Homo sapiens: one gene and its partners. The protein of the gene in region 1 purifies or fractionates together with the protein of each later gene. This does not show direct contact. Each region holds a gene or a part of one and is shown in the gene's direction. Other genes may lie near its edges.

Region 1 (3,500 bases):
GATTGAGACCATCCTGGCCAACACGGTAAAATCCCATATCTACTAAAAATACAAAAATTAGCCAGGCACGGTGGCATGAGCCTGTAGTCCCAGCTACTCAGGAGGCTGAGGCAGGAGAATGGCTTGAACCCGGGAAGTAGAGGTTGCAGTGAGCCGAGATCACACCACAGCACTCCAGCCTGGGCAATAGAGCAGGACTCTGTCTCAAAAAACAAAACAAAACAAAAAATTAAGAAATATGGTCTATATTGTAAGGCATTTTCTGTGGATCCAGGCCTGTTATGTAATTAGGACTGGGGTGGGAGAAGGACCGTCTTGTCTTATATTTAGACTTCTGATCTGATCACTAAATAAGTTACAGGTATTTTGATGTTGTCATGTTTAAAGTGTCATTTAAAATAAACAATTGAAATATTATCAATTTGGTAATCCCTTTTGTGGTTTTATATGTTTTATATATTCATTTTATAATACACTAAAAGCCTCACAAAATGGCAGTAGACTGCAGTTCCTAACCCCTGAGGGGCCGTGTTTCATGATGCTATTATACACATCTAAAACTAAAATAAATATTAATGAAAACGACGTTTTCCATATTAAGTGAAGAGAGTTAAAGGTACATATTTTATTTCTATAAAGTGACAAACACTTGATCGCTGTAAATGTGAATACAACTTTTATTTTTAAACCTTTCAAGGGAATTAGATCTATTTTCCTGCTGTTTCCAAGCCTTCGGTAACCCTCTGAGTGTGTTTGTATTCACTAGGAAGGAACATTTCTGTGGAATTAATCAAATGGAGAATTCAATGTTCCTTTTAGATAATTTTGGCCATGTTCCATTGCGAACTTTCTAGTCTGCATTTCATCTCTTTCCTGGGAAAAGACCCACATATTCCAAATCCTCTGCCTTTTCTCTACTTGTTAGTGAAGAACAATATAGCAAAACTGCTATGTACAGAATTAATAATCATGTGCATTCAGCAAGGCTCTCTGCTGGGAATTTCATCACTAGAATAAGGCAAAACGCATGAGAATAAGAGTTCAAATGTAGTCAGTACAAACTAGTATCAAAAACTCTGTTGTATTATCGTTAATTGCTCCTCTGATTTTGCTAAAATTAAAAGAAAAATTATGTGGGGGGAGAATTAGAAAATATTCAAAGCTCCTAATATATTCCAGTAAACCCTGAGATGACAAATCTCATTTTCCAAGGAAAAGCAGTGCTAATTTTTTTTTGTAACAACAAAGAATTCATGTTCAATGCCTAATTAAAACCTGGAAATCTATATGCGTTGTTTCTTTTTTTTTTTTTTTTTTTTTTTTTTTTTTTTTTTTTTGAGACGGAGTCTGGCTCTGTCGCCCAGGCTGGAGTGCAGTGGCACAATCTCGGCTCACTGCAAGCTCCGCCTCCCGGGTTCACGCCATTCTTCTGCCTCAGCCTCCCGAGTAGCTGGGACTACAGGCTGTGCATTGTTTCTTAATGGCTTTCCAAATTTACAAAACAATCAGAGTCCTTATCTATCACTGGCTTTATGTTTCATATCAGCTTTTTTATTCATCTTACAGAATGCATTTTGCCTTGCAGATGAATTCTAGCTATTTTATCCATAGCTATAATGGAATAGCTGCTGCTATTATTTATGCTCTATACATGTTACTTTGGCCCTAAAGCCTGAAGGAACCCATTGTTGTTTTCTACCACTGATGATTTTATCTGCACTTCTGCATCTGGGCAATTGTTCACAATAGTCACAAAGACCTAGCACTTGGTCTGAGAATCCTACCTGCTGAGGAGTTTTATTTGGCCAGTTTGGTAAAGGACATTTAAATGAAGATATCTAAAGCTAGCAGAAAACAGAGATTTTGGAGTCATCAGCACATTTGGGATGGTGGAAGCCACAGCCAAGGAGGGGATGTAGTACACGAAGACCTCAGGGTAAATGTGCAGAGCCCTTATTAGGTATTCAGTAAAGACTTGAGGAGTAAAAGAATGAACTAGAAAATGACAATGTACTGATTATTAATTTATATTTGAGTAAAAAAGACTGTTATTTCCATCAAAATCTGCCTCTAGAATTTTCCAGCAAGAAAGTAAGTGATGATAGTTATTAAAAGCCCTAGCAACAGTTTATATCCTTGAGGTAAAACCATCCTGTTTCAACAGATACCATATTCTCATTGAATTCCACATTAGCTTATGATAAACACAAGATGTTTTTCATAATCTAGATGCAGGTTTTATGCATTTTTTTTTAGCAAAACATACAGGGAACTGCCAAGATGGGAGAGTAATCTTTCCTAAATCACTCCAAATGTCACCATGACTATAAGCATACTTTCCTAAATTGGGGGATTTTTGCTTAAGAAAATATAAGTTCATTCAAATGCTTCACTCACATTATATTAAGGTTTCATCATTTATCCTATAAACAAAATTCTGCTTTTATATACATTAATCACTTTGTCATTCATAGGATCAAACCAAAATGACAACTGCTCACTTTTACTGTCAATACTGCACAGCATCACTTCTTGGGAAGAAATATGTACTAAAGGATGACAGTCCATACTGTGTTACATGTTATGATCGTGTATTTTCTAACTATTGCGAGGAATGCAAAAAACCAATTGAATCTGATTCTAAGGTAAGTCTCACCTCAATTTACAGAATTACTGCCTATGAACAGCAAACAAGTGGGTTGGAGTGCCTCTTTTCATTTAGTGTTGACTTTCAACACTATTTCTCTGCTACTGGATATATAAGGATCTTAAAAGTTACCAGCAGTCAAGCTCCAGCCACTACACTTAGCACTATGAAATACAACATATGCTTAATCCTCACATGATCTTCTAAGGTAGCTGAGAATGCTAAAGATTAAAGGGGTTAAGCTATTTGTCCAAAGTTACACAGCTAGAATTTTCCTGCTGTTTCCAAGCTCTCAGTAACCTTCTGGGTGTGTTTGTTATTTCTGGAATGACAAGGGTATAAATAAATGCATAAAGAATTGAAGTTGAAAGGATTCAAAATCTGTTTTCTGATGTAAAATCAGCTTCATTTCTTACTAAACCCTATTGATACCTCTCACACCTACCACCCCTTCCTCCGACATGCTTATTCTTTCTTTCTTTCTTTCTTTCTTCTTTTCTTCCTTCCATCCTCCGATTATTTTCCTCTCTCTTTCTCTCTCTCTCTCTCTCTCTCTCTGTCTCTTTCTTCCCTCTTTCTGCCTTTGTTTTACTTAGGTGATGTTATTTTTTGTCTGTTTAGTTACATCTCAAAGAGTAATAGAACATTGCACCCTAAAATTTTTAAAAATCATTCCATGAAAAACCTCTATTATAGTTTATAAAAAGAATATAGGCAAATTTTGAAGACACAGCAGAGAATGTATTTGTTTTTTCCCAGCTGCCTTAAGTGACCCACCAAGAAAGCCCTGGGCTCTAGCTCTTAATTACCCCAGAGAGTCTCCTCTCTATGGGTAACAGTTTCAGTAACAACT
Region 2 (3,500 bases), on another chromosome or scaffold:
ATGAAGTAGGAAAGATAACAGATGAAGGTCAAAGATGGGCCGATCCATGTCTTGGTGAGAGCACAGAAGCTTGTGGGGCATTCTGATACCAGAGCAGGGTTGAGTTCAATCTTGGAGGCCCACCCATTTTCTCACCCTCAAAATGTGTGCAACCCCAGCTGGTCTCCTGAGAGGTGTGATCCAGGCTGCCTGTGTTCCCTGGAGAAGGTGATCACCCTGCCTTTCATAGGATGCAATCAGAACCCATTCCTGGAGACCGTATCCCACCCTACAAAGTGCAATCAGTTGGCCTTTCCTGTTTTCCACCTCCCGCTGCACAGAGCTTCAGTCCCCTGGCCTCCCTCTGCCCTTAGAGTCAAAAACCCCTCACCTCCCAAGGGCTTTTAACAGCCCTGGTGGCCCAGGCCAATGATACCTACCTTGTCCTGATCAGGACTGTAACAAGGGTGGCCTCCCTGGAGGTTGTGACAAATGGGCCTTAATATACACCCCCATCCCTCTGGAGAGGACACAACCTAATCCTGGGTATAACCTGCTTGTCGCTCCCTCTCTTTACCCATGAAGCCAGCTTCTTAAGCTACTTCTCTTCTTCTTGCATAATGGGTGCAATCCAAGAAGCCTTCCCTAAGGCAGTGGCTTCCTTACACCGGACCTATTTATAACCATCCTATCCCCAGCGCTAGAAGAAGCTACTCCACTCGCGCACACGTCTCCCTGGTCTATTCCGGGCAGAGGTGCAATCCAGACAATCTCCCCGATGGCAGGGACCCTGCAATCCGGAATCCATATGTAACCCACCTCCTCTCTCTCCCTGTCTAGGAGAAGCCGACCCCTCCCGCAATGCCCGCCCCGCCGTGCGCCTCCTGCCATGCTGCACGCGCCGCCCTCCGCCGTCCGCTCTCGGGCCAAGCGCTGTGCGGTGCCTGCTTCTGCGCCGCCTTCGAGGCCGAGGTGCTGCACACGGTGCTCGCCGGCCGCCTGCTGCCGCCCGGCGCGGTGGTGGCCGTGGGCGCCTCGGGCGGCAAGGACTCCACGGTGCTGGCGCACGTGCTGCGCGCGCTGGCGCCGCGCCTGGGCATCTCACTGCAGCTCGTGGCCGTCGATGAGGGCATCGGTGGCTACCGGGACGCGGCGTTGGCGGCCGTGCGGCGCCAGGCGGCGCGCTGGGAGCTGCCGCTCACGGTCGTGGCCTACGAAGACCTCTTTGGGGGCTGGACGATGGACGCCGTGGCCCGCAGCACAGCCGGCTCCGGCCGCAGCCGCTCCTGCTGCACCTTCTGTGGAGTGCTGCGGCGCCGGGCGCTGGAGGAAGGGGCGCGCCGCGTGGGAGCCACGCACATCGTGACAGGTGAGCGTAGTACGGGCCGCAGAGCGGCACTCTCCGAGGCAGTGGGGCGAATGCACAGGCGAGGAGGCGGGACCTGAAAGGGGATTCAGGCGCATGCTCCAGAAGGCGGCGAGGAGACCCTGGTGGCTTAATGGGAGGATCCCTGTACGGAGGTGCGGAAGGGCGCATGCTGCAGTTTGGGGCTGGGGCCCTTTAAAGGTTCAAGACGCTGGGGAGACAGAGGGGCCAGGCAGTGATCACAAAGGTTTTTGGGTCTTGGCCACCGTCTTGGTCTCCACAGATTGCCAAAGGGGTGGGAGGTGAAAATCTCTGGAGATCTCTGGTCCTTTACTTATTTTTAAATGTTTCTAACATGCTTGATCTCTTATGGTCCACCTTTCAGAATCCAGCTCTTTCTCTAAAAAGCATCTCCATCTCTTAATTCCTTTTCTTGGTTGGCCTCTCCTCTTTGATAACTTTTTTTTTTTTTTTTTTTTTGAGACAGAGTCTCGCTCTGTCTCCCAGGCTGGAGTGCAGTGGTGCGATCTCGGCTTACTGCAACCTCTGCCTCCCGGATTCACGCCATTCTCCTGGCTCAGCCTCCCGAGTAGCCGGGGCTACAGGTGCCTGCCACCACGCCCAGCTAATTTTTTGTATTTTTAGTAGAGACGGGGTTTCACCATGTTAGCCAGGATGATCTCGATCTCCTGACCTCGTGATCCACCCACCTCGGCCTCCCAAAGTGCTGGAAGATAACTTTTTTATTCTGTCTTTTTCATCCATTCCTTCAACAAACAGATGCTAAGTTTCTGCTATATGCCGGATCCCAACTGTGGCCATACCAAAGTTCTTAACCACTCTGTACTTCTGTTTCACCCCATCCCTAAAACAGGACTATGAATGGTACCCAGCTCATAAACTTGTTATGACAATTAGATGAGTCAGTAGAAGTATAACGTTATCTATATTATAGTTATGTTACATAACCCGTATGATATAATATAGATTACACATTTTATACATGCTATTATCATCATCATTGTCAGGCTAGGGCTGAGAATACAGTTACGCACAAGTTCCTACCTTTGCATGGTTATCAGGTACAAAATTATAAACATTATACATGTTATTGACCATGTATGGACATGTTATGGACTATGTGTACACACAGAGAACCCTATGACGTGGAGGGAGTGGGGTCAAGGAACGGTTTTGAAATCTGAAGGCTCACAGTGAAGAGGTAAAGCGGGTAAGAATTAGGGAGAGGTTATTGGCCTGTGAAAAGCCAATTTGGGCTGCCCCAAGAAGTCCAGTGTGGCTGGAACCCAGAAAGCAAGGGCAGGGGAGGCTGGAGAGGTGGAAGAGGTCAGGCCTTACCCTGTAGGCTGTGGCGGAACCAGTAAAAGTGACATGAAGAGAGTTTCACTTTGAAAAGCTCACCCAGGCCATGGCGAGGAACCTGGGTTGGAGGGACAGGGACAAAGCCGAGGAGACCAGTCAGTGGGAAGCCAGCTGCGGTGATGGAGGTGAGAGATGATGGTTGGAGAGAATCAGCACACTGAAAGCATATGAAGGCAAAAGTAGTTCTGAGGCTGTCATGTGCCACCATGCTAGGTAGGGCCACTGGCTCTGGGGAAGGCTTACTGAGCTTCATTCACTGATGTGGCCCTTTCCTTACTGAGTAACTTTGGAGAAATCCCTAGATCTCTGTGATTGAAAATGGGAAGAATAATCCTTACCATACAAGAGCAGACAGTGTATGGAAAGAATGAAAGGCTTCGGCCGGGCACAGTGGCTCACACCTGTAATCCCAGCACTTTGGGAGGCTGAGGCAGGCGGAATCACAAGGTCAAACGTTCGAGGCCAGCCTGGCCAACATGGTGAAACCCCGTCTCTACTAAGAATACAAAAATTAGCTGAGTGTGGTGGTGGGCGGCTGTAATCCCAGCTACACGGGAGGCTGAGGCAGGAGAATTGCTTGAACCCGGGAGGCGGAGGTTGCAGTGAGTCGAGATCACGCCACTGCACTCCAGCCTGGGTGACAGAGCAAGATTCCAGCTGGGGGAGAAAAAAAAAGAATGAGAGGCTGCCTCGGATTTTAAAGTTAATTTGATAGAATCACTTATTAATTGTACTTCCAAAAGTAATGAAGCCTTCCAGAAAAATCCCTGAC
Region 3 (3,106 bases), on another chromosome or scaffold:
GCTAACATGGTGAAACCCTGTCTCTACTAAAAAATACAAAAATTAGCTGGGCATGGTGGTGCACACCTATAATCCCAGCTACTCAGGAGGCTGAGGCATAAGAATTGCTTGAACCCAGGAGGCAGGGGTTGCAGTCAGCCGAGATCGCGCCACTGCACTCCAGCCTGGGTGACAGAGTGATGACTCCATCTCAAAAAAAAAAAAAGCAAAAAACTGGTCACCCAGTCTGCAGAATGATAAAGTCAGTAAAAGTTACCTACGTATATAGGTTTGAAAAGGTCTACTGTTCTCAGCTTCATTTACACATACAGGTATGGTAAATGGTATGTGTAAATGGTATGTCTCTATTCCTCTGAATACTGCTTTTTATTTCAAGAACACCACAGTGTTAGTTTATAGTGAAATACTCTGCAAAGTTTCAAACATGTTTATTTGAAAGTCTAATTAAATGATAGCAGAGAGAAAATTTCCTGAAGTGTAATCTTCTTTTATACTGTCAGTATGTGCTTGATTGAATTAAGGAATTTATATTTGGTTTTACTTTTCTTAAAAGTTCCAAAATTATTTTTCCCCTAGGAAGATGAGAATGTGCCTACTGCTCCTGATCCTCCAAGTCAACATTTACGTGGGCATGGGACAGGCTTTTGCTTTGATTCCAGGTAGTTTTCTTCTTTACTTTGTAGAATTTGGGTTATATCGGCCAGTGGTTCTCAAAGGTGGTCCTTGGGAACTCATTAGAAATGCACATGTGTAGGGCCTGGCCTAGCTGAACCAGAAACACCAGGCGTAGGCCCAGCAATATGTGTTTTAACATGTCCTCCGATTTAGGGAGTTTTGTCAGAAAACATTTTTAACTTGCAGTATTTAAAAGAATATTTACTGTTCCTAAAATGTCATTCAAATGCATGTATTGTCTGTTGTTTGGGGATGGGAACTAGTTTTGCAAAAAACACCTAATGTTGTATAATAATGCACCAATGATCTTGCTGGTTAAAAATACAGTATTTTTGGCCAAAAACAAAAACATGTCCTCCGACTGATTCTGATGCATACAAGCATTTGAGAACCAGTGCCATAAAAACTTTGCTATTAAACCAAATGCACTGGTGGGAAGTTATGAGTTGTATTTATCCTTACAGTCTTACAAAAGGCATTTTCTGTTAAACGTGGAAGAATTCTTGGTACTAATTTCACGTAATTGTGATTGGATTTGGGAGGTTTTAAGGGGGAAAAACGGTTTTGTTAATCTAATTGTAAAATTGAATTTAGAGGCTCTATAAATGGGTTACACAATTGTCTACAGCAAGCATTTAGAAGCAGAGAAATGTTTCTGGAGTAAAGACTTTTAAGGTAGGTTGTTTAGTATGAATATCAGCTAACTAGATAAATGGAACCTTGTCATATATGGACAAGTTGTTGTTCTACATTTATTAGAAACATGTAATTCTTTCATTTTTCTCTTTAAGCTTTGATGTTCACAAGAAGTGTCCCCTCTGTGAGTTAATGTTTCCTCCTAACTATGATCAGAGCAAATTTGAAGAACATGTTGAAAGTCACTGGAAGGTGTGCCCGATGTGCAGCGAGCAGTTCCCTCCTGACTATGACCAGCAGGTGTTTGAAAGGCATGTGCAGACCCATTTTGATCAGAATGTTCTAAATTTTGACTAGTTACTTTTTATTATGAGTTAATATAGTTTAGCAGTAAAAAAAAAAAAAAAAACCACACCTAAAATAGACCACTGAGGAGACCATAGAGCGGATGCTTTCATGCACCCTTTACTGCACTTTCTGACCAGGAGCTACTTTGAGTTTGGTGTTACTAGGATCAGGGTCAGTCTTTGGCTTATCAATAAATTTTAATCTCTGTTAATCTTACCTGCTTTAAAAAAAAGTTCTTGTGTGTTCGTATCTTTATTTATTCCCTAGTTTGCAGAACTGTCTGAATAAAGGATACAAGGATTATTTCAATGTTACTGCACTGAAAAACGTGTATGTATTAGTGTGCTAGATTATTTAGCAGAATATTCACAAGTTTCTGTTGACCTTGTTGATTGAGCATGACTACTAAATATTATGTAATAAAAAGCATTTGTCATAACAGTCTTATGAAGTAGTTCTTCGAATATAGAAAGTTCTATAATTTAGCCCATGAAATGATAGGTTTTTAATTTTCAGAAATGGAGCTGCATGTAGAATGAGATCACATGCTTTTATATGTGAAATATTGGTTTTAGCAATTAACAGAAGGCATACTTTGCTAATTTTATGGCAAAATTTTAGAATAACCTGAATGATTATTTTTAAACTATCTTGAAGTTGTATGTATATATCTAATGGGAAAATGGAACAAGAGATGTCAGTATAATTGTTTTCCTATTAAATGATCTCATAACAGGGGTGTTTGTGGCATAAAAATCATAGAATATATATCAGTATCTTTTTTACATTTTCCTGATGAGAATATAAATTTGAAATATTCTCAGTAAGTGATTAAAAGTACAATACATAAACCCAAATCAAAGTAATGTGTTTCTTCAGTTATGTCTGTGCTGTATAGAACTGTCACTAACATTAAAGAAAGAGGACACATTTTTCAAGATCTGTAATTTCATTGTTGTCAAATTTATTTGTGAAAGTTTTTCATTAATCTAGCATCTTGAACATCTTTTTTTGGTTTGGGCCTTTAAAATACTTCTGAATTGTATTCCCTTTCCCTTTTATAATGTGCGTGTGAATAATTTAAAGCACCAACTTTTGATTTTGCCGCTTTTGTAGTTATCATCAAAATAGTTTACATTTGTTCTGAGCAAACTAGCTATTGAAGATGTTAACCTAATATTTAGACTTGGTGGCATTTTGAGTTGCTATATGTGAACTGCAGCATATCATGTCGTCACTTGTATTTGTTTGTGGAAGCAGAGTTTGTATATTGTTAGAATCCTTTAAAAAGTTTTTTGAGTCTAGGGCAAACCAGTATGAGGCATTCATATGCCAGCTGTTAGGACACAGCAGTCCTAGGAAGCAATAGCTTTGGAGACTTTCAGCTTCCAGATAGGTTATATACTTAGGTAAAATATGTTCAACAATGGGAGCATTTTTGTTGGAG
Region 4 (3,500 bases), on another chromosome or scaffold:
TCTGTCGCCCAGGCTGGAGTGCAGTGGCGCAATCTCAGCTCACTGCAAGCTCCGCCTCGCGGGTTCACGCCATTCTCGTATCTCAGCCTCGCGAGCAGCTGGGACTACAGGTGCCCACCACCACGTCTGGCTAATTTTTTGTATTTTTAGTAGAGACAGGGTTTCACCGTGTTAGCCAGGATGGTCTCAATCTCCTGACCTCGTGATCCGCCCGCCTCGGCCTCCCAAAGTGCTGGGATTACAGGTGTGAGCCACCGCGCCTGGCCGGCCTTGTTCTGTTTTTAAAAGCCTATATGCCGGGCACGGTGGGTCACGCCTGTAATCCCAGCACTTTGGGAGGCTGAGGCGGGTGGATCACGAGGTCAGGAGATCGAGACCATCCTGGCTAACATGGTGAAACCCCATCGTTACTAAAAATACAAAAAAAAAAAAAAATTAGCGGGGTGTGGTGGCGGGCGCCTGTAGTCCCAGCTACTCTGGAGGCTGAGGCAGGAGAATGGCATGAACCCGGGAGGCGGAGCTTGCAGTGAGCCGAGATCGTGCCACTGCACTCCAGCCTGGGCGACAGAGCGAGACTCTGTCTCAGAAAAAAAAAAAAAAACCTGTATTGAGTACCCAGTTGTTCAGCTTATGTGATGGGGCAAGACTGATTTGGGTAAACGAGTTAGTTAACAAGCACAGCCTAACACTTTCCCCTTGCATCTGAATGTAAGACATCATGTGACAGTGATAATGGAGTAAATCTACAATGTTAGTGAACTATAATCCAGAATTAGAAAAATGTCCAAATATGTGAATCTAAAAATGGGGTAGCTTTTTATTTTTAAAAAGTGGATTATTAGATGTAATTGTAATTATTTTGGCCATATGTTAATAGAATATATTAAGTTAGCCTTCCCTTATGAATATTAAACTAACTTAATTATAAATGATACCACTATTGGGCCAGGTGCGGTGGCTCACGCCTGTAATCCCAGCACTTTGGGAGGCCAAACGGGAGGATCACTTGAGGTCAGGAGTTCAAGACCAGCCTGGCCAACATGGTGAAACTCCATCTCTACTAAAAATACAAAAATTAGCCGGGCATAGTGGCACACACCTAATAATCCCAGCTACCCGGGAGGCTGAGGCAGGAGAATTGCTTGAACCTGGGGAAGGTAAAGGTTGTAGTGAGCCGAGATCATACCACTGCACTCCAGCCTGGACAACAGAGCAAGACTCTGTCTCAAAAATAAATAAATAAATAAAAATAAATTATGCCACTATTGTTGCTTAACGTTAAAGATTAGTGAATTGTTAAGATTTCTCAAAATATAAAAGTTGTTCATACTAATAAAGGATAAAAATAGAAATTTTCGAAATTATCCTTTTTGTTTTGTTGTGCCTTTGCCAATATCCTGTTCTCTCACAGAAAAATAAAACGTATATGTATTTTTTTGTCTTTGTACTTTGGTGGGTTTTGTTTTGTTTTGTTTTTGTTTTTTTGAGACACAGTCTTGCTCTGTTGCCCAGGCTGGCGTGCAATGGCACGATCTCAGCTCACTGCAACCTCCGCCTCCCAGGTTCAAGCAATTCTTCCATCTCAGCCTCCCAAGTAGCTGGGGTTACTTGGGCGCACACCACCACACCCAGCTAATTTTTGTATTTTTGTAGAGACGGGGTTCCACCATGTTGGCCAGGCTGGTCTTGAACTCCTGACCTCAGATGATCTGCCCGCCTCGGCCTGCCAAAGTGCTGGGATTACAGGTGTGAGTCACCGTGCCCAGCCTGTCTGTGTACTTTGCATCTCCAAAAGCAGTTTTGTTCCATCGGTGATTTTTTTTTTTTTTTTTTTTTTTTAGACTGAGTCTTGCTTTTCCACCCAGGATGGAGGCTGGAGTGCATGGTGTGAGCAAAGCTCACTGGAGGCCCAACCTCAGGTGTTCAAGCAATCCTCCTGCCTCAGCCTCCCATGTAGCTGGGACCACAGGCATGCGCCACCACACCTGGTTAATGTTTGTGTTTTTTGTAGAGATGGGTCTCACTTTGCTGCCTAGGCTGGTCTCGAACTCCTGGGCTCAAGTGATCTTCCTGCCTTAGCCTCCCAAAGTGCTGGGATTACGGGCAAGAGCCACCACACTGAGCCTGATGTATTATTTTTTCTTTCTTTTTTTGAGACAGAGTCTTACTCTGTCACCCAGGCTGGAGTGCAATGGCATGATCTCGGCTCACTGCAACCTCTGTCTTCCTGGGCTCAAGTGATCCTTCCCACCTCAGCCTCACAAGTAAATGGGACTACAGGCGCACGCCACCACACTAGGCTAATTTTTTATTTTTATTTATTTATTTATTAGAGATGAGGTATCACTATTTTACCAGTCTGGTCTCAAACTCCTGGGTTCAAGTGATCCCCCCGCCTCAACCTCTGAAAGTTGAGATTACAGGCGTGAGCCACTGTGCCTAGGCTCTGACATATTCTGAAATCCAGGAATATTGGTTCCTGTTTGACTAGAAAGAATAGGTGGTGAGCATAATCTTTACAGTAATGCCTGCCTTTCAAAGTTTATATCCTTTCTTTTGCATGGTTACTACTTACTGAACTCACAGTACTCTATACTTTCTATTGCTTGTATGCTGCTTTCTTACAATATGCTTGTAATTTTTACCATGAAGTTAGCCTAGAAAAACAGTGATTCCCACAGTATCTTGTAAGGTATTTAAGTTAAGCACTCCTTCCTGGCTCCTCCTCAGCATCGGTAGACATCTTCCCAAGTTAATTCCCAAGCTACCATTGAGGACAGATCTATAACTATATAAGGCCTTTGTTTATCCAGTAGGCTTTGACTGCCTGAAATGAACTTCTGTGACCACTTTCTTCATTGCTTTTTTTTTTTTCCCTTGAAAAGGAGTTTCACTCTTGTTGCCCAGGCTGGAGTGCAGTGTCACAATCTCAGCTCACTGCAACCTCTGCCACCCAGGTTCAAGTGATTCTCCTGCCTCAGCCTCCTGAGTAACTGTGATTACAGGCGCTCGCCACTACACCTAGCTAATTTTTTGTATTTTTAGTAGAGACGGGATTTCACTATGTTGGCCAGGCTGGTCTCGAACTCCTGACCTCAGGTGATCTGCCTGCTTTGGCCTCCCAAAGTGCTGGGATTACATGCATGAGCCACTGCACCTGGCCTTACTGCTTTCATAGGTATTATTATTATTGCTGTTAAATATATCTGATAAATAATAAAAATCATTTTCAGATTTGCCAATATTCTTTTAGTTATTGCAATCTGTAGTGTCTTTTTAAGAAAATGTAAAAACTGTCTTAATTGTTATTCTTTTTAATATTCCAACTAAAAGCAGTGGTAATAGGTTCTTCTTCATTAACAACATATCATATACCAGGAATATGAATATTATTTTAATCTCTAAACAGAAACCTGCCAAACCACTTATATCTGTTCCTTGCAAACCATTGAAGCCCTCAGATGAAATGATTGAGACTACGAGTGATTTGGGGAAGACAG
Region 5 (3,500 bases), on another chromosome or scaffold:
ACTTGTAGGCCCCTATTTTGTCTTTGGCTGTGTTTATCTGCTTTGTGTCTTGACTTAAACTATTTAAAAGTAGATCCTGCTATATGGAAATTTCCAAGTAAAGAGGAGAGAGGATTTTTTTTTTTCTTTGTTGCCCATGGTAGAGTGATCACAGCTCACTGCAGCCTTGAACTCCCCGGGCTCAGATGATCCTCCCACCTCAGCCTTTCAAATAGCTGGGACCACAGGCGCATACCACCATGCCCGACTAATTTTTGTATTTTTTTGTAGAGATGGTTTTGCTATGTTGCCCAGGCTGGTCTCAAACTCCTGGGCTCAAGCAATTAGCCTGCCTCAGCCTCCTAAAGTGCTGGGACTATTGGTGTGAGCCATCACATGTGGCCAGGAGAGAGGAATTTTAAAATATTTATATACTCTAAATTAGTTTGTTGCAAAATACCATTCTAATTAATGCTTTTATGTCATTCTCATGAAACTAATCTGAAAGAGTAAACTTAGTTTTCTATTTTTAGATATTGTTTCAACATACCAAATACCAAAATAAAATTAAATAATTTTAAAGAACATAACACAACTTATACATCCAAATGCCTATTGTTTTCTTAAAAGTAGTCACCCCCGTCAGTGACTTTTTAGCATAAGGTTAGGAGACAGATTCTTATCTTTTCAGCATGCATTTGATTTTTACAAATTTTCAAAGGCTGCTTGATACCTTAATCAGGCCAATATATTAGCTAATTAAATTAAGTCATACTGTTAAAACATGATATTTATAAAATTAAAAGTTAAAAAATAGTCTAAGGGTTTATCTTAAGTTTTATCTTAAAAAAATTAGAAAAATGTTTTGAGCTATGTTATTGTTGGAAGGTGTGGTTTTTCTACGGTAAATGTTACGATATAACACTCATTTGCATGTGTAAGGTTCAGAGTACACTTATAATTTATGTGCACAGATTTTCATTATAAAGTCATTCTCTTTGATTTACATATTTTTACTTGCTATTTTTGTACTTATTATGCCACTGGCAGATTCACCTTATTAAGTGAAACTCTTTATTGCTCTGTTTTCAGTAGAAAAATCACTTTTCAAAATTAATACTTCATCTGTGTATAAGCATATTCTTTTGGTTTCTAAGATTTGCTGTCATATTTTTAAAGTTGAGTTTTAAAGAATTAAAATAATTTTTGTTGTTGTTATTTTCTCATGGTTTACCATTGAATATACCTGTATAATAAAGGTGCAGGATGGGAGGCAGGATAGTGGAATAATTAATTCCATAGACTAGAATCAGATTGCCTGGATTAGTATTTCAGCTTTATTGCCTACTAGCAATATGACTTTGACAAGCTATTTAACCTCTCATTCAGTTTCCTCATCTGTAAAGTGGCAGTTACAGTAATACTTAACCTTATAGTGGTTTGGGGATTTTTTTTTTTTTTTGAGACACGGTCTCACTCTGTCACCCAGGCTGGAGTGCAGTGGCGTGATCCCAGCTCACTGCAGCCTCTACCTCCCGGGCTCAAGCAATCCTCCCACCTCAGCATCCTGAGTAACTGAGACCATGGGCATGAGCCAGCATGCCCTGCTAATTAAAAAATTTTTTTTATAGAGATCGGGTCTTGCTCTGTTGCCCAGGCTGGAGTGCAGTGGCATGATCATGGCTCACTGGAGTCTTGAACTCCCTGGGCTCAAGCAATCCTTCTGCCTTGGCCTTCCAAAGTGCTAGGATTATGGGGGTGAGCCACTGCACTCCATCATTTTTGTGGTATTTAAATTGGGTAATTTGAGTAAAGAGAATAATGCTTGGCACATAGTAATTACTCAACACACTTATTGTAGTATATATTATTGCCATTATTATTTACTTTGTGGCCTGCACTAGTGTTTATAATTAGTGACTATTTCCTTTAGTTTTTATACTTGTCAGAAGAATGGCAATACTTAACCTCTGTTTTACCAGGGTATTGCTATTTGTGCTTATTGCAATAATTAGCTCTTACAAATTGGCTCTAGGAGTCTCACAGAACCACCCAATTATTTTTGTTCTTCCTGTCTCGTTCTTGTTTCCATCTGTCCTCTGATACAAAGCCTTAACAGCCCTTTTGTCATATATCATGCTTATTTTTTGTCTTCTGTTAGCTCATTTGTTTCTCAAAATCTTGCACTTTTAATTTTTAAACATTCATTTATTGTCTTGGCTGGACACGGTGGCTTATGCCTGTAATCCCAACACTTTGGGAGGCTGACGCAGGCGGATCGCGAGGTCAGGAATTTGAGACCAGCGTGGCCAATATGGCGAAACCCCGTCTGTACTAAAAATACAAAAATTAGCCTGGCATGGTGGCACGTGCTGGTGTCCCAGCTACTCGAACCGGAGGCTGAGACAGGAGGATCGCTTGAACCCAGGAGGTGGAGATTGCAGTGAGCCGAGATCGTGACACTGCACTCCAGCCTGGGCAGCAGAGCGAGACTCCGTCTCACAAAAAAAAAAAAAAAAAAGAAAGAAAAAATTCATTTATTGTCTCATTTCAGTTCTACTTTGGGCAGCCTCTGGCTAATGAGAGAACCAGTGTCTTGTGGTCTGGAGTTGTGGGATGGACACTGGTCCCATTGGCTATAGCAGATGAAACTTGGTTGGGGCTGGAAGCCTTCCTATTTTTGTCTTCAGCATCTGGCTGGCCACATATATATATATATATATTTTTTTTTTTTTTTTTTTTTGAGATGGAGTCTAGCTCTGTTGCCAAGGCTGGGGTGCAGTGGCACAATCTCGGCTCACTGCAACCTCCACCTCCCGGGTTCAAGTGATTCTCCTGCCTCAGCCTCCCGAGTAGCTGGGATTACAGGCGCCCACCACCACGCCCATCTAGTTTTTGTATTTTTAGTAGAGACGAGGTTTCACCATGTTGGCCAGGCTGGTCTCGAACTCCTGACCTCATGATCCGCCCACCTCGGCCTCCCAAAGTGATGGGATTACATGCATGAACCACCGCACCTGGCCCTGGCTGGCTATATTTTAAATATAATTCACTCTTGACAAATTTATGAATTAGATATTATAAGCCCCATTTTATACATGAAGAAATTGAGATAGTAATTACATCATTCATTGTCACTCACCTGATAAATAGCAGAACTCATCAAACCCAGGTTTGCAGATTCCTTATCCTTTTTCTACCATACAGTACCTGCCCTTAGTAAGTGTTATTTCACCTCACAAAGAGGAGGAAGTTACAGTTGTGAAGAATACATTTCATTTTTACCTTTGTTATTTATTTTTAGAGACATTTTAAATCCTAAGGATGTGATCACAACTCGCTTTGAGAATTCCTATCCTAGCAAAGATTTCTGCAGCCAATCATGCTTGTCATCTTATGAGCTAAAGAAAAAACCTGTTGTTACCATATATACCAAAAGCATTTCAACTAAGTGCAGTATGTGTCAGAAGAATGCTGATGTAAGTTACATTTTACTTTTATTGGGATTCTGCTGAAAGAGA
Region 6 (2,543 bases), on another chromosome or scaffold:
GGTAATACTGAGCCTTTACCTCCTGATTCTGGTGACAAGAACCTTGTAATACAGAAATCAAAAGATGAAGCCCAAGATAATGGGGCTACTATAATGCCTATTATAACAGAGTCTTTTTCATTATCTGCCGAAGATTATGAAATGAAAAAGATCATTGTTACCGATTCTGATGATGATGATGATGATGTCATTTTTTGCTCCGAGATTCTGCCCACAAAGGAGACTTTGCCGAGTAATAACACAGTGGCACAGGTCCAATCTAACCCAGGCCCTGTTGCTATTTCAGATGTTGCACCTAGTGCTAGCAATAACTCGCCCCCTTTAACAAATATCACACCTACTCAGAAACTTCCTACTCCTGTGAATCAGGCAACTTTGAGCCAAACACAAGGAAGTGAAAAATTGTTGGTATCTTCAGCTCCAACACATCTGACTCCCAATATTATTTTGTTAAATCAGACACCACTTTCTACACCACCAAATGTCAGTTCTTCACTTCCAAATCATATGCCCTCTTCAATCAATTTACTTGTGCAGAATCAGCAGACACCAAACAGTGCTATTTTAACAGGAAACAAGGCCAATGAAGAGGAGGAGGAGGAAATAATAGATGATGATGATGACACTATTAGCTCCAGTCCTGACTCGGCCGTCAGTAATACATCTTTGGTCCCACAGGCTGATACCTCCCAAAATACCAGTTTTGATGGATCATTAATACAGAAGATGCAGATTCCTACACTTCTTCAAGAACCACTTTCCAATTCCTTAAAAATTTCAGATATAATTACTAGAAATACTAATGATCCAGGCGTAGGATCAAAACATCTAATGGAGGGTCAGAAGATCATTACTTTAGATACAGCTACTGAAATTGAAGGCTTATCGACTGGTTGCAAGGTTTATGCAAATATCGGTGAAGATACTTATGATATAGTGATCCCTGTCAAAGATGACCCTGATGAAGGGGAGGCCAGACTTGAGAATGAAATACCAAAAACGTCTGGCAGCGAGATGGCAAACAAACGTATGAAAGTAAAACATGATGATCACTATGAGTTAATAGTAGATGGAAGGGTCTATTATATCTGTATTGTATGCAAAAGGTCATATGTCTGTCTGACAAGCTTGCGGAGACATTTTAACATTCATTCTTGGGAGAAGAAGTATCCGTGCCGTTACTGTGAGAAGGTATTTCCTCTTGCAGAATATCGCACAAAGCATGAAATTCATCACACAGGGGAGCGAAGGTATCAGTGTTTGGCCTGTGGCAAATCTTTCATCAACTATCAGTTTATGTCTTCACATATAAAGTCAGTTCATAGTCAAGATCCTTCTGGGGACTCAAAGCTTTATCGTTTACATCCATGCAGGTCTTTACAAATCAGACAATATGCATATCTTTCCGATAGATCAAGCACTATTCCTGCAATGAAGGATGATGGTATTGGGTATAAGGTTGACACTGGAAAAGAACCTCCAGTAGGGACCACTACATCTACTCAGAACAAGCCAATGACCTGGGAAGATATTTTTATTCAGCAGGAAAATGATTCAATTTTTAAACAAAATGTAACAGATGGCAGTACTGAGTTTGAATTTATAATACCAGAGTCTTACTAAACTCCTTTGAAATACTAGAAAGTTTTGTTTTGGATGATGGGGCAGGGGTTTCAGAAGATCTGTAAAACAAATTAAGGTGCGAACAAGTTAATTTGATCTGCCACATTATCTGAAGGAAGTGTAGTGGGATTTTTGTTGATAATTTTTAGAAGCAAATTTTCCTGAAAGTTTTGAGTAGAGGTGAGACCCCCTCCCCAAGTATCTGTTTATATAGTTAGTTTTCAGCTCATTTAAAAGAGGCAAAAATTAAAAGCTTGGAGAGATAGTTTCCTGAATAGAATTTGAAGCAGTCTGAATGTTCTTTGAAAATAACTGGAGTTATTAGCATACCCTAGTACATCTTACAGCTTTCCCCTTCCATGTTAGCACTTTACTGCTGAATTCTCAATTTTCTTAACATTGAGACAATAAATGTGTGTTTTGTCTTGTATATGGCATAAAGAGTAAATAAGTTTTAGAGTTGTTCTGGAAAATGTCAGAATAAGTCAGTACTTGGGTTGTGTAATCTGCTAGTCCAAGCGAACAGCAACCTCCTGCTACCCTCCCTCTATGAAAATAGCCATGCAGACAAGTCTCTCATCTGAAGAACAAATTAGATTTAGCTAATTAGAATTAATCCTGGCTTTCATTGCCATAGTCTGTAAAAGACTTTGGTGGCTAGACCACTTTATACCTTCGCAGTGTGGTCTCTGGGGGCAAAAAACTAATGAAAACAATCTCTGTAATGGCAGATAGGAGGAGATGAAAAGTTCTGTTGCATGGATTTTTAATTCTCTGGCTACCACATAGTAGAGAATGGAATGAAGATTTCCTTTTGGCTTCTTAAGGTTAAAAATATTCCCATGAACATGAAAATTTTCAAATTTTGAATCTGAAAGCCACCAAATGTATCTTTATGTATAAATCCTTGTAAATGATAG

The links.
Region 2: the proteins of FHL5 (region 1) and CTU1 purify together in Homo sapiens (affinity purification with mass spectrometry; 3 studies listed by BioGRID and IntAct, with this or other methods). This does not show direct contact.
Region 3: the proteins of FHL5 (region 1) and TAX1BP1 purify together in Homo sapiens (affinity purification with mass spectrometry; 3 studies listed by BioGRID and IntAct, with this or other methods). This does not show direct contact.
Region 4: the proteins of FHL5 (region 1) and ZMYM1 purify together in Homo sapiens (affinity purification with mass spectrometry; 3 studies listed by BioGRID and IntAct, with this or other methods). This does not show direct contact.
Region 5: the proteins of FHL5 (region 1) and ZMYM6 purify together in Homo sapiens (affinity purification with mass spectrometry; 3 studies listed by BioGRID and IntAct, with this or other methods). This does not show direct contact.
Region 6: the proteins of FHL5 (region 1) and ZBTB33 purify together in Homo sapiens (affinity purification with mass spectrometry, with the first as the bait; one large-scale study listed by BioGRID). This does not show direct contact.

Annotation. Positions count from the first base shown.
Region 1 is NC_000006.12:96,601,128-96,604,627, forward strand, and holds part of FHL5 (four and a half LIM domains protein 5), read left to right. Parts: exon of another isoform or gene 1-25; intron 26-2,474; 5' UTR 2,475-2,486; coding exon 2,487-2,645; intron 2,646-3,500. UniProt on the Homo sapiens protein: May be involved in the regulation of spermatogenesis. Stimulates CREM transcriptional activity in a phosphorylation-independent manner.
Region 2 is NC_000019.10:51,101,910-51,105,409, reverse strand, and holds part of CTU1 (cytoplasmic tRNA 2-thiolation protein 1), read left to right. Parts: intron 1-819; 5' UTR 820-840; coding exon 841-1,348; intron 1,349-3,500.
Region 3 is NC_000007.14:27,827,162-27,830,267, forward strand, and holds the end of TAX1BP1 (tax1-binding protein 1), read left to right. Parts: intron 1-576; coding exon 577-659; intron 660-1,466; coding exon 1,467-1,668; 3' UTR 1,669-2,606; downstream 2,607-3,106.
Region 4 is NC_000001.11:35,106,885-35,110,384, forward strand, and holds part of ZMYM1 (zinc finger MYM-type protein 1), read left to right. Parts: intron 1-3,409; coding exon 3,410-3,500.
Region 5 is NC_000001.11:35,014,946-35,018,445, reverse strand, and holds part of ZMYM6 (zinc finger MYM-type protein 6), read left to right. Parts: intron 1-3,283; coding exon 3,284-3,458; intron 3,459-3,500. UniProt on the Homo sapiens protein: Plays a role in the regulation of cell morphology and cytoskeletal organization.
Region 6 is NC_000023.11:120,253,812-120,256,354, forward strand, and holds part of ZBTB33 (transcriptional regulator Kaiso), read left to right. Parts: coding exon 1-1,623; 3' UTR 1,624-2,543. UniProt on the Homo sapiens protein: Transcriptional regulator with bimodal DNA-binding specificity.